2 separate regions of the Homo sapiens genome follow, and region 2 is linked to region 1. Evidence: fine-mapped expression QTL. Tissue or cell type: blood mononuclear cells. Region 1 holds a variant in brackets; the other region holds the start of a gene. All regions are shown on one strand. Distances are from middle to middle. Region 1 overlaps SYK (spleen associated tyrosine kinase). Region 2 holds the start of SYK (spleen associated tyrosine kinase).

Evidence for each region. PIP is the estimated chance that this variant, and not a neighbour inherited with it, causes the effect.
Region 2: SYK starts here. The variant in region 1 is fine-mapped to the expression of SYK in blood mononuclear cells (TOPMed, PIP 0.97). The same link has a PIP of 0.9 or more in whole blood.

What each region holds. Positions count from the first base shown.
Region 1 is chr9:90,843,907-90,848,299 of GRCh38, forward strand. SYK (spleen associated tyrosine kinase) reads left to right here. Exons shown (of 14, transcript NM_003177.7): 2 at 1-409; 3 at 1,528-1,688. Among named protein-coding and RNA genes, the nearest start is that of SYK, 44 kb to the left of the region's middle. The variant G/A (reference allele first, on the strand shown) is at 2,154.
Region 2 is chr9:90,799,358-90,803,750 of GRCh38, forward strand. It overlaps SYK (spleen associated tyrosine kinase), which reads left to right and starts at 2,462. Exons shown (of 14, transcript NM_003177.7): 1 at 2,462-2,536. RefSeq lists silencers at 2,211-2,420, 2,441-2,600.

The sequences.
Region 1 (4,393 bases):
CAGCGGCATGGCTGACAGCGCCAACCACCTGCCCTTCTTTTTCGGCAACATCACCCGGGAGGAGGCAGAAGATTACCTGGTCCAGGGGGGCATGAGTGATGGGCTTTATTTGCTGCGCCAGAGCCGCAACTACCTGGGTGGCTTCGCCCTGTCCGTGGCCCACGGGAGGAAGGCACACCACTACACCATCGAGCGGGAGCTGAATGGCACCTACGCCATCGCCGGTGGCAGGACCCATGCCAGCCCCGCCGACCTCTGCCACTACCACTCCCAGGAGTCTGATGGCCTGGTCTGCCTCCTCAAGAAGCCCTTCAACCGGCCCCAAGGGGTGCAGCCCAAGACTGGGCCCTTTGAGGATTTGAAGGAAAACCTCATCAGGGAATATGTGAAGCAGACATGGAACCTGCAGGTGGGCCACAGCTGGTCCTGCTCCCTGGGCCCAGGGGGCCCTGTGACCCCACACAGACTTCCTGGCTACATGCAACACATGTGCCTATGTGCCCTGTGTGCCCAAATAACACAACCATCTCCTTAAGCATCAATTTTGGCCAAAAAATGCCTCTCTCTGATAAGAGCCTTTCCTCTTTCACAGCCACAGCTGAGAGGGTGGGTCCCTTTGTGCCAGCAGTGTGGGTTTCTCCACAGCAGGGAACCACTGTTACCCAGTGCAAGGAGGGCCTTTTCAGAGAGGCATTGATAGGTGTTGATTGGTTTCTGTTTATCTGACAAGGTCCTACCATACACACTGATAGGCACTTGATTTTATGGCTTCCTAATATCTCTTGCAGAACTTTCTGTGTCAACACTCATATAGTTGCATCACCCGTTCTTTGGCTATCTGGTATCACCTGCTATGCACCACAATTTATTTAACTAGTACCTATTGATGGACACATTTGCTGTTTATGAATAAACGCTGCTAACAACATTGCTCTAGACCTATCGTATACTACACTTGTATGCAACGTCTGCAGGATAAACTTTGAAAGGGTTGGGATTGCCACAGCAAAGGATATGTGTGTTTATTTTTTTATTTTTTATTTTTTTGAGACAGAGTCTTGCTCTGTCACCCAGGCTGGAGTGCAGTGGCATGATCTCAGCTCAATGCAACCTCTGGCTCCAAGGTTCAAGCGATTCTACTGCCTCAGCCTCCCAAGTAGCTGGGATTACAGGCATGTGCCACCACACCTGGCTAATTTTTGTATTTTTAGTAGAGATGGGGTTTCACCATGCTGGCCAGGCTGGTCTCGAACTCCTGACCTCAAGTGAACCATCCTCCTTGGCCTCCCAAAATACTGGGATTATAAGCGTGAGCCACCGTGCCCGGCCATGTTATTTTTATTTATACACTTGAAAGTACTTAAGTAATGTGTAAAGGTCTTTCTGGTTTTATTTACTGAATGAATGAGTGAATAAGTTTTGATCCTGTTTTACCATGCCAGGACTCGAGATAGATTGGAAATGCCTTCTGCATCATTTTCATTTTTCCTCGGTATGGTTTACTCTGCTTTGCTCTCCATGTGGCAGGGTCAGGCTCTGGAGCAGGCCATCATCAGTCAGAAGCCTCAGCTGGAGAAGCTGATCGCTACCACAGCCCATGAAAAAATGCCTTGGTTCCATGGAAAAATCTCTCGGGAAGAATCTGAGCAAATTGTCCTGATAGGATCAAAGACAAATGGAAAGTTCCTGTGAGTATCGTGCCTTCCCCCTCACCTCCTGCCACCAGGCCTGTGTGGACAATTGGGAATAATTCAGCTTCCTTGTGACTGGCCCCACATGACCCTGGGAAGAGGCCATGCATTGCCATTTGACAACATGCATGCTGGCCTGTTCTAAAGACATTTCTAACCAAAGCTATCACTTGTGACCCAGTGTTTATTTTGCCCAGTCTAACTCTAAAATGAACACTCTTTTTGGGCACCGAGGGATGTAATATTTAAAGAAAATGTGATTCAGCCCCATATTCTCCTTTTAATGGCAAATTATAGGTTGCATAGCACATTCTGTGGTTATCCAACTAAAATTAAAATACTGCAGTTTTTTTACTCAAACTACCCCCTTGATCTCAGACTTTACTTCTATTTTACATGAAACAAGATGCCAACAGGAAAGATGTTAAGGAAAAGTTCCTGGGAGTAGCATCCATGAGTGGT[G/A]AGTGCAGGTTTGAAGACTTCAGCCTTAGGCCCACAGTCATTAGAGGGTCTGTCTGAATCCTGGGTTCTGTTTGCTATCCTCAGTGGTTCAGTGTAAATCTAAATTGTAGAAGGTTCTGAGATACAGGCCAACGTGGTCAGTCAGTTGTCCAGAGAAGGTAAAGAACTGTCTTTGGGAGGTGTCAACCTTGTTCCCTCGAGGGGGTCTGGTCAAGGTGGCTCAGTGGGGCAGTTGTCCCTGGGGGAAATGATCCCCTGGTCACCTCTCAGTGTCCCTACAGAGATGCTTACCTTGGAAACATAACCAGAAACAGCGATGCAGCCTCATGGTTTGGCAATTGGTGAATCCCCAGCCGACTTCGTAAACTTTTCCTAGATTTAGAAGCGTTTTCTCTGCCTGTCCATCTATTCAAAGGAATTTCCTCAGACTTCACTGTCATACCTTGTATTTTAAAAATGATCTTAGCTGAGTGCAGTGGCACGCACCTGTAGTCCCAGCTACTCCTGGCAGGAGGATCGCTTCATCCTCACTATGATCTCACTATCGTTTGAGGCTAGTTTGAGACCAGCCTGGGCAACATAGTGAGGCCCTGTCTCAAAAAAAGAAAAAAAGAAAAGAAAAATTGACCACAATACTCTTAAAAAAAAAAAAAAAAAAGGAAGAAGGAAGAGTGGCCCAGGTTGCCACGCGGCAGTGCCTAGAGTGATGGTCTTTAGTGGGATGCAGCCCCAGCCAGCAGCAGAATGCTGTGGGGAGGGAAGACATTGCCCCTCAGTGGAGGCACCTATGGCTATTTTTGCTGAGGTTTGGCTTCTTACCATCTCAGCAATAATTTCCAACATGAATGTCATGGGACCATGCACATAGCATCTTGGCATGTGAAGTCAACCCAAAATAGCATAATCCACACGATGAGGCTGGCCAACTTCTGCTGGTTAAGAAGCCTGCTCATAGCCTCTTTGGCCACGAAGCTGTTTCTTTTTTCGGAGTTGTCTATTCCCGAAAACAGCAGTTGCATCCTTCATGGCCATGACTTTTGCTCTCTCCTTCCTTTCTGGGAGATGTATATAAACCCCATGCAGAAGGCTGGGAGGTGCAGCTCTTGTTTGATGAACATGCCTTGTTCCCTATCTGCCCTGTACAGACTGACATCTCATGTGTCCTCACAGCACATGTCCCTGACACTGAGGCTTATGGTTTATGCAAGAGAGTCTCAAACTTGCCGTGCTTCCTATTCAGCTGGTGTCAGAGCTAACCAGGCATGGGCCTGTGAGAGAGGGGCCTGGGCTTCTGTGTTTTCATCGAGCACCCTCTCCTTAGTTGTCTTCTTCTCCTGGGTTCTTATTCCTGGGTTCTTATTCTCCTGGGTTCTTATTCCACTTTATATTGCAGTTGTCCAGTTATCACCCCATAATTGCCAACCTCCCAGATAATAGCTTCCAAGGCTTTCTCCCTTGTGTTGTCCACAGCTCAGTCCCACACCTTCCCGTGCTCCCTCCACACCTGCAGGGCTCACCTGTGGACTGATGGTGCATAGCACCCCATGCCCAGGCCTGGCATCAGGCAGGGTATTAGTGAGAGGGAAGAGCAGAGCTAAGCCTGGGCAGCAAGACCCAGCTTCAGAACCCATGTTCCCATGATGGTTGTAGAACCTTAGACTAAGGGAAACTTTCCCCAGGCTCTGCTCCTCTGGGTCTGTGACTGTCTTGAGGATTCAATGAAAATACACACCACGTACACCGCACAGCACATGTGGTCATCACTGATGTAGCTTTTCTTCTCTCTTCAGTGCTCTTTCTCCATCATGAGCACCAGGAAAGTCTCCTTGTCAGGGTATCTTATGGTGTTTTTAACAGAGAAAGTGTGAGGAAACACCTTGGAGGGGTTTGCCACCTGGCAATTTCACCTCTTGACAACCTTTCATCTCCTACAGAACCTGGCTGGGGTTCTTGGCTGTTGCTGGGTGTGTAAACCTTCCTTGTTGCAGTGTAGTGGGCGTGTTATACTGTGAGTGTTTGAATATGGTTGTGTATGCTTGTGGAGAGCAGGGAGAGTTTGCCAGCATACTGGATACAGTCCAAGTCTACCATGCTTCCAGCACGGGGCAGGGTCTGCATCCCTGAATACAACGTCTCCCAAGTCCAGGTTGCCTAGACGTTGGTCCAGATTCTTTCATCTTTAGAAGTGTTTGTTTGTGTGTTTCTTTCATGGGAAATAGAGCTAAAAGGCTCCAGGGAAC
Region 2 (4,393 bases), 45 kb before region 1:
AATGACATCTTGTTTGTGTCCAAGTTTTGGCAATAAACTTAGTAAATAAAGCCAGCGTAAACATTTGTGTGCAGATTTTTGTGTGAACATAAGGTTTGAACTCCTTTGGGTAAATACCAAGAAGCACAATTACTGGGTACTACTTTAGGTAAATACCAACTACTTTGGGTAAATACCAAGAAGGACAATCCTCTTATAATTACTCATGTTGTAAGAGGATGTTTAGTTTCATAAGAAACTGCCAAACTGTCTTCCACAGTGGCTGTACCATCTTGCATTCACAACAGCAATGAATGAGTATTTCTATTGCTTCACATCCTCACTAGTGTTCACTGCGGTCAGTGTTCCGAATTTGGGCCATACTGATATCTTACTGTCTTCATTTGCATTTCCCTGATGATACATAATGTGAACCATCTTTTAGGCTAGGCATGGTGGCTCACGCCTGTAATCCCAGCATTTTGGGAGGCCAAGGCAGGCAGATCACGAGGTCAGGAGATCGAGACCATCCTGGCGAACACGGTGAAACCCCGTCTCTACTAAAAATACAAAAAATTAGCCGGGCATGGTGGCGGGCGCCTATAGTCCCAGCTACTCGGGAGGCTGAGGCAGGAGAATGGCGTGAGCCCAGGAGGCAGAGCTTGCGGTGAGCTGAGATGATCGGGCCACTGTACTCCAGCCTGGGCAACAGAGTGAGGCTCCGTCTCAAAAAAAAAAAAAATTACTACATGATACTAAGTAATGCGGAAGGTGACTCAAAGGGGGAAAGGAACACAGCAGTGTAAAGGAAGGAGGTTGTAGATGGATCTAGAATTTCCCCCTCATTTCCATCAGGTGAAAGCCTGAGAAAACTGCAATCTTTGTGCAGGCTGGGTTTGCTTTGTACACACTGGTCCCCTAGTGTTCATCTCCAATAATGCTGACAACTCTGAAAACCATCTGTAGACATTCTGCAGGCTCCATCTCAGGAACAATGGCTATTTTTTCGGGTAGTTGAAGCAAAATTAAGTCCAATGATAAGCAAATATAACCATTATCAAAATCTTCCATTTATGTTTGTTAAAGCAACCTAAGTATGATCTGAGAAGGACTCTGTATTCTATATTTGAGTCCTTGTGGATGAACTGTAACCTAGCTTAATAGGCAGACAAGATTGAAAACCTAATTTAGGAGTATGTGCCTTTAACAATAGCTGAGTCTTGGCCAATCCCAGTGGCCATACTTCAACCATTCATACACTGCTGAGTGTTCAAACTGTGTTCAAAGAAGGCAAAAGCCAACCTGTAACCAATCCAGTTGTTTCTCTGCCTTACCTCCAATTTCTGTATGTCACTTCCCTTTTTTTGTCTATAAATATGTTCTGACCATGAGGCATCCCTGGAGTCTCTGAATCCGCTGTGATTCTGGAAGCTGCCCCATTCGCAAATCATTCATTACTCAATTAAACTGCTTTAAATTTAATTCTGCTGAAGTTTTCTTTTAACAGGTTTAGAAAAAATAATGGCAAAAATGAATGAAAATCCAATAACCCTGGAAGCAGAAAAGGCTGGGGGCTCCAATAAGTGTAAATAGTCCCATCCCTATATTTTCTCCATGGCAATTACAATCCAGCACATTATATATATATTTTTTTGCTTCTCGCATTTTGGCTTAGGGTAAAGCTTTTTAAAACAGGCACTGCCAACCAGTGTTATCAAGAAGGTCTGGATGCCGTTTTGTGGGAACATTTTAAAGAGGAATGTCCAAAAGGAAAAGGGGGATGGGTTGGGAGAAGGGTATCAGGCGGGTATCTCAAAACCATTCTTAGGGCTATAGGTTTAATTTATTTGGTTGTGGACGTCAGAGCCGTCATGGTAAGAAGGAAGCAAAGCCTTTTGTAATAATTAAAGCCTTCAGAAGCAGCGTGCCCCATTGCCCACTAGTGCGCCGTGAAGTCTGGTGTTCACCTACAGGGTCCCTCTCAGCACTGCCCAGGCCTCCCGAGTGCTCCAGCACAGTAGCTTGGAGCTTGTTGGTTTGGTGACCAAGATACACTCCAGGGAATATGCCATGCAGTGGAGTCTCTTCCCCGGCACTGCATAGCAAAAGGAAAGGGCCGCTGGGTGTCTGTGGGTCCTGGGCAGTCACAGAAGCCACCGCGCTGGCGGGGAGGAGGGGGACCGATGCGGTCCATGTCCCGGGCAGCCCCACCTTCTCTGCCTGCGAAGGGCCCTTGTCCGGCGGGAGGAGAGAGGCGCGCCCCACCCGGGCTCCTCTACACCTGCCGCCGCCTGGGCCGATTCCGCGGGCCTCGCCCGGCGCTTCAGCCGATTCCCGCCCAGCTCCGGGCTCATGGGCGCGGTCAGCAGGGCGGGCCAGGGCGGCGGGGCGCGACACTGGGAGGAAGTGCGGGCCGCCTGCCCGGGCGCGTTAAGGAAGTTGCCCAAAATGAGGAAGAGCCGCGGGCCCGGCGGCTGAGGCCACCCCGGCGGCGGCTGGAGAGCGAGGAGGAGCGGGTGGCCCCGCGCTGCGCCCGCCCTCGCCTCACCTGGCGCAGGTAGGTGTGGCCGCGTCCCCTACCCGGCCGGGACTTTCTGGTAAGGAGAGGAGGTTACGGGGAACGACGCGCTGCTTTCATGCCCTTTCTTGTTCTACCTTCATCGGCCGAGGTAAAAGTGCTGAAACCATGTGAATAAAATACAGGTGGGTTCCGCCAGCTTCGCTCCTGAACCTACCCGCGCTCGGGATCCAGAAGCTGCGCCGGGAGAGAGGGGCTCAGGCCTGGGCGGAGGGGACGGAGGTCAGACCGTGCGGAAAGTGACCCGGGCACCCCAGGGCGCCCAGGCCCCCAGGGAGCGCGGAAAGTGCGGTCGCGGCCCGGCCCTCGGGAGACGCGGGATTGGGATCAGGCACAGCGCGAGGAAGTCGATCTTGGAGCTAGAACATTTTCCTTTGGCCATTTACACGAATCCACTGGAAAATGCCGCAGTGTTTATCAAAGTTACTCAAAGTAGAAATGTCCAGACGTCTTATGAGCTTAGACAAATCTTTTACTACAAAAAGAAACAGCAGTTGCATTCAAACAACAACCCTTCTGAACCACTACTAAAATTTAGCATAATTACTCTTGTGGATACATTTTCATTGTCAAGTAATTTACTTAGCCAATGAACTTGGAGAGCAAGAAAGTTTTATGTAGTAAAATGTAAATTTGAGTTAAGAGTTAAGGGTGTTTCTTTTTGTCTGTTTGTCTGTTTTTGGCAATGTGGCTCCAAAACCTTAAGCCCACCTAAAAACTATATAAATGCAATCCATTCTTTTGTTGGAATGTTCAAGGACTAGAAAGACAATTGGAGAAGTGAGAGTTTGAATCTTTTTTTACGTTGGAAACAGTGTTGCAAAATATTTTTTGAGTTTTGCCTGACTTAGCAAAGATTCAGTCGAACTCAAGTAGAGTTCAAAGCATTGCAGCGTGTAGTAAAAAAAAAAAAGAGTTGAAGATGTTGTGCCATATCTGATTCTTGGTATTAAAAATAAAAAAAGGAACCATTTAATCCCTAAGAGTTCCTGGAAGAAATGGAATTGATTCTACCATCTGACTTCTTTGTCTTAGTAGGGACAAATTCATTGCCTTCACACAGGCAGCATTTTAATTAAATGCAACTAAATACATTGATGTCCTCCTTCTCCCCAGTGAAAGTCCGAGCAGTGCATAGATAGAATTATATTTTCTCAAAAAGGCTTAAATACATGTAAATTATTAAGTGTTTTAAGTGAGAAATCTTTGTCAGTTGAAATTATTTTATCAAATCATTTTTGTTCTGAACGGCACTTTTGTTTTAACGTATTTAGAAAACTCTTGCATTAAAACAGAAATTGATTTGTATTATCCCCTGTATTTGAAGTGCACTTTAAAGTGTATTTGAATGAGAGATTATAATCAAATTACTTGATTTGTGTCTTATCCTCTTACTCTTCTACCTTGGATTTGAAAAGGTTGGATTTGAACACTAGGAAAAAAGAGATTTTTCTACTGAGGGATTGTGGGAAGATTTTTTTTTAAGCCTCTGTATTTGAAGTGAAATATAAAATAGGATTTTATAATAGTCTTAATAACTAGAAAGTTTTAAGCTAGGATAAAAATGGGGTGTATACTTTAGGTCTTTATCTTTCCTGAGAGATGAAATTGGTAGAAACGTTATTTTATTGCTAGATTTCACTTTAGAAATGAATCACCCTGATCTTTGTTAGGCCCCTATTTAATATTCTAAATGCAGGTCTAATCTCTCTGCTTTTTTTTAATGGAAGACTTCTTAGTAGAACTTCACTTATTTAGCACATTGTTTGCCCATGGTTATAATCCAATATGCTTGTGCCAAGACGTATTTTGGAATTCAAGCTTTTTCAGAATTTG